Linked DNA regions of Homo sapiens: region 2 is linked to region 1. A link means that fine-mapping ties the variant in region 1 to the expression of a gene that starts in the linked region. Tissue or cell type: whole blood. Region 1 holds a variant in brackets; the other region holds the start of a gene. All regions are shown on one strand. Distances are between the middles of the regions.

Region 1 (2,758 bases):
CTCCCTGGACTGCCCCCACAACCTCACCATACAGAGTAAACTACTTTCATCTGTGTGATCTTATAGCCCCTTGCCATACCCCAATCATGGTATTTATGAATTTTACTGTAGCTATTTTTTTTTTTTTTTTTTTGAGACGGAGTCTCGCTCCGTTGCCAGGCTGGAGTGCAGTGGTATGATCTGGGCTCACTTCAACCTCCACCTCCCAGGTTCAAGTGATACTCCTGCCTCAGCCTCCCGAGTAGCTGGGACTACAGGCACGTGCCACCATGCCCAGATCATTATTTTGTATTTTCAGTAGAGATGGGGTTTCACCATGTTGGCTAGGATGGTCTCGAACTCCAAACCTCATGATCTGCCCGCTTTGGCCTCCCAAAGTGCTGGGATTACAGGCGTGAGCCACCACGCCAGGCCTACTGTAGCTATTTTTTACATATCTATCTTTCGACTACACTATGAGCTACTTGAGGGCAAGTATCACAATTTTTGCACCTTTATGTCCTAAGAGCCTAGTAGTTCAATAAACAGTTATTTATTATAAAAAGAACTGAATCTATGTTCTATGGAAGTTGGGAATTTTCATCAGTTTTGTTCACAATATATTCCAAGTGCCCAGAACCATGCTTGGCACGTATTATTGAATGAACAAATGAATGAACAAACGAGGTCTTACCTGGTGAGAAGGCTGGGATCCCAATCTGTAAGATGATGTCTCTTTAGAGTGGAGGGTAGCTCCCACAACAATCCGGGGGAAGGGGAAAGGGGGAGACTGTTGGCCCAAGACAGCAGAACCTTGAGCATGAAAAAGCCGATCTCTTAGCTGCTGAACTGGTGGCTATAAGTTTTAATGAGGAAGAGCTGTGTCAAGAAATTAAAACAATCAAGGCCCCAGGTAGCAGTCAAATTTCAGCTGACCCTCTACACCAAGCTTGTCCAACCTGTGTTATTTTGTTGTTGTTGTTGTTCTGTTCTGTTTTGTTTTGTTTTAGGTTTTTAGCAGCCTGAAGCCATGGTTTTTGGTTTGTCTCTAGTGATAAGTGGAAAACCGGGATGAGGAAGGGGCTTTACTGGCCCAACCAGAAACAGAAACTAAGCACCCACGACTGTATTCTGACCCTTGGACACCCCCGCTCTATACTCTAGCCCCCTTAGAGATGACTCAAGGTTCCTGAATCCCTGCCAAACACTTGCATGCCTCCCTCCTTGCTATTCTTTCTGCTTAGAATGCTCTATATCTGCTGGTAAGCTACTTCTCTTTGAAGGTCCAGCTCAGCTGTTTTAACCATTGAGAAGCCTTCCTTGACTTCTCCAGGCAAAAATCAGTCCCTTCCCTGGACTCCCACAGTGCTCAGTATAAGCTTCTGTTATGGCACT[A/G]TAAGTCATCAACATCTGATCTTCCCCCAGTAGATTGTGAGGTGCTTAAGGGATTCCATCTTATCTATCCTAGGAGCTTCAGCATTAGCATAGTGCCTGGAATATGGAAGTGCTCAATCAATGTTAGATGACTGAATGAAATGGTTTGCTCTCTCCACATGGCCCCACTTACCTGAGCACAGTCCCTGGGTAGAAAGCTCATGGCAGTGGCCAGGCTGCCCTGGGCTGCCAGGAGGTTGGCATACTGAGTGACCCTGTAGGTTGTGGCAGGGCCTGGGCTCACCCCATGAGGACCCCGCAGTTGCTCCAAGCTCCTGTTAAGAACCATCACCTTCTCCATCAGGTCCTGTAAGGGCAAGGATGAGGGTGGTAAGCCTTCAATGAGGCATATCCTGCTCTCTAAGTCCACGCAGCTCATTCAGGGATCTCCCACTATGGGTACAGATGAGGGCACCTGACCATACCTAGGTGAAGGCAGCAGATGATGACACGTAAGAACTGTGACAGAGAAGGGCCACCTGGCCTCACCTCCCAAGCTGTTAGGATTGGATTTAACTGGACCCATCTGGGTCTTAGATTTTTGTACATCTCTACCTCTTCCTTTTGCTTTTTTACCCTTTCTGCTTATACATCACCAACCACAGACTCTGTCAGACTAATTGTTTCATGTGCGACTTTTGTCTCTCCATGAGTCTGTGACCCCCACTTTCTGTGGTCACCCACAGAACACCTGGAAGTTTAGATCCACAGAACTTTCCACAGTAGCTAATAGAAGGGCCAAGCCACAATTACTCAAGTACTGAATACATCTGTAAAACCAAACCTGAAATAGGAAAAAAATTATGAAGACTAACACTGAAGCAGCTGCTGCTTAGTCTTCTCTGAGGGAAGAGGAGAAGATCCCAGACATTCAGGACCTTTCGCTCCTCCCTAACACCGTGGTTCCAGCCTGTCCCAGAAGATTCGCCTCTGCTAGCTCTGCACATCTCCACCACTAGCCTCCTAAGGGCCTGGTGTGGAGTGGCCAGTACCCTGCAGAGAAGGGGTACCTGCAGAGCCATGGGGGACAAAGCCTGGTGGCATTTTGCCCAGCACTCCACCAGCCGCTCCACACTCCCTGAGCACACATAACAGAGTCTGGCTTCGGAGGTTAGTGCCCTGCTGCCCTCCTGTTCCATGCGAGTTCCCAGCATGTCTGCAGAGAGAGGGTAATTTCATTAATGGCACAGCTGCCCTGTGTGCCTCTCCTTCTCCTGTTTGGAAACAGGGAGAGGACCATGAGCCTGGGACAAGTAGCTGCAGTTTAAGACAACACTGAGACTCACCTTGCTGTACAGAGAAGGGGAAAGTTCTCACATCATGGTGTGACAAGACAAGGTAAAAC
Region 2 (2,500 bases), 150 kb before region 1:
CACATCTGAAATCATCCAGTCTTGTTCAGAACTTTCACACCGGACAGGGAGCCAGGACTGGAATGCAGTCTCCTGGTCACTGGCCAGAGAGTTGGCCTGACCCTGAGACCAGTGGCCAACAAAGGAGCTGCTTAGTCTACCTCCCAGGAAATCCCAGGTGCTTGTCTTCCTGGGAAGTGAATCATTGGCGCAGCACTCCGTATTTTCTCCTCTTCCCAGGGGAAGGATCCTAGGGCAGTATTTGGGAAAGACATGGGCATGGAAGGACACCGGGTGAATGCATAGCCTGCCTGGTTCTGAGCTCTCATGGTAAGGCTCCTACAGACACGGAAAAGATGGGGGCACAGGGACAGATCAGTAGGGTCAGAGCATCTCAGGGACCGAGGGCAATATGGTCCTGAGCAGGGATTAAGAGCTTGGGCTCTCATATGGTGTTTCTGGGCTCAACTGCCAGCTCCATCACTTACTGGTTGCTGTGACCATGGGCAAGTTATTCCATCTCTCCATATCTCTTTCCTCACTTTTAAAATGGAATAATGGGGTACCCACCTCCCAGGGTCACAGAGAGGCTTACAGAAAACGATTCTTGTGAATTGGCTTGCAGTAATAATTCAATACCTGCCAGCTATTCTTATTCCACATCCAAGCCCTTTCGCCTGCTGCTGGGTGAAAACACATGTCAGTGTTTCCTGACGGTTTCCACAAAGAAGATTCCAAAATTACAACCTGCCAGTCTGAAGAATCTCCAAAACATCCCGCACGCATCCTGGAGGCGCGGGCTTGGGGATGGGACTGCCCGCCCGGGTCCTGAACAGGATGCGTGCGCGCAGGCACACACACACCAGCCAGCCTGTGTGTGCGGCCGGAGTCCGGTGCGGTCCCGGGTGAGCAGCGCGTGGCTGGTGGGCGGGGCAGAGCCATTGTTCGCAGGCGTACCGAGTCCCCCGCGCTCGCCCGGGAGGGAGGCGGGGCTTCCCGCGTCCCCCAAGCTCCAGATCCTGGGGTGGCTGCCACGTCTCCCTGCCACGCGCCTGGGGGGACGGAAGACGGGACGGAGATGTTAGTGGTGGGCGCCCCCCGAGGGTTCACCACTGTTTCCTGAGAAACTTCCCCAGTGCCCACCCACCCGTTCTCCGTGTGCCCGAGGGCCGGTCCTGGGCTAGGCTCCGCGCCCCAGCCCCAAACCGGGTCCCCAGCCCCTTCCAGAGAGAAAGCTCCCGACGCGGGATGCCGGGCAGAGGCCCAGCGGCGGGTGGAAGAGAAGCTGAGAAGGAGAAACAGAGGGGAGGGGGAGCGAGGAGCTGGCGGCAGAGGGAACAGCAGATTGCGCCGAGCCAATGGCAACGGCAGGACGAGGTGGCACCAAATTCCCTTCGGCCAATGACGAGCCGGAGTTTACAGAAGCCTCATTAGCATTTCCCCAGAGGCAGGGGCAGGGGCAGAGGCCGGGTGGTGTGGTGTCGGTGTCGGCAGCATCCCCGGCGCCCTGCTGCGGTCGCCGCGAGCCTCGGCCTCTGTCTCCTCCCCCTCCCGCCCTTACCTCCACGCGGGACCGCCCGCGCCAGTCAACTCCTCGCACTTTGCCCCTGCTTGGCAGCGGATAAAAGGGGGCTGAGGAAATACCGGACACGGTCACCCGTTGCCAGCTCTAGCCTTTAAATTCCCGGCTCGGGGACCTCCACGCACCGCGGCTAGCGCCGACAACCAGCTAGCGTGCAAGGCGCCGCGGCTCAGCGCGTACCGGCGGGCTTCGAAACCGCAGTCCTCCGGCGACCCCGAACTCCGCTCCGGAGCCTCAGCCCCCTGGAAAGTGATCCCGGCATCCGAGAGCCAAGATGCCGGCCCACTTGCTGCAGGACGATGTGAGTTTCCCAGCCTGGCCCCGTACCGCCGGGTCGCAGGCGCGGGCTGGGCTTCCAGGGGACGGGTTGGTGGCAGAAGAGAGGGGAGAGCTCCGCGGAGGACTTGGTCATCTTTTTCGAGTTGTGCTGCCTTCCGTGAGTTGGGAATGTGGATTGTAATTTGGGGACTTGAGTCTCCAACTTTAGTTTCTTAAGCTTTAAAGAAAAATCCGGTCGTGCTGGTGCTTTTATGAATTATGCGGGTTTTCCTTTGTCTTCGTGGGGATGTGAGTGCTTTACTTCTCCTTCCTACTGCCGCCTCCCGATAGGTTTCGCGCCCCTCGTCCCCCTCGCCCTCCGCCCCTAATGTATCTGTACAGTTTCAGGGAACTTTTCTCCGTTGCGTCTCGGATACACCCTACCCTCAGTGAACTACGGCGCTGCGGAAGGGTCCGTACTGTCCACCCTTCCCCCAGCGTGATTAGAGAGCGGAGTGGCCCCAGCTGCCTCCACGTGTCTCTTCTCCTGACTCTCCTCTTCCTCCCCCTTCCAGATCTCTAGCTCCTATACCACCACCACCACCATTACAGCGCCTCCCTCCAGGGTCCTGCAGAATGGAGGAGATAAGTTGGAGACGATGCCCCTCTACTTGGAAGACG

The links. PIP is the estimated chance that this variant, and not a neighbour inherited with it, causes the effect.
Region 2: SCD starts here. The variant in region 1 is fine-mapped to the expression of SCD in whole blood (INTERVAL, PIP 0.95).

What each region holds. Positions count from the first base shown.
Region 1 is chr10:100,494,712-100,497,469 of GRCh38, forward strand. It overlaps SEC31B (SEC31 homolog B, COPII component), which reads right to left. Exons shown (of 26, transcript NM_015490.4): 17 at 2,424-2,569; 18 at 1,547-1,720; 19 at 674-835. Among named protein-coding and RNA genes, the nearest start is that of SEC31B, 24 kb to the right of the region's middle. The variant A/G (reference allele first, on the strand shown) is at 1,375.
Region 2 is chr10:100,345,670-100,348,169 of GRCh38, forward strand. It overlaps SCD (stearoyl-CoA desaturase), which reads left to right and starts at 1,564. Exons shown (of 6, transcript NM_005063.5): 1 at 1,564-1,862; 2 at 2,395-2,500. The coding sequence starts at 1,836. RefSeq lists silencers at 829-1,208, 1,409-1,458 and enhancers at 999-1,590, 1,239-1,308, 1,689-1,928.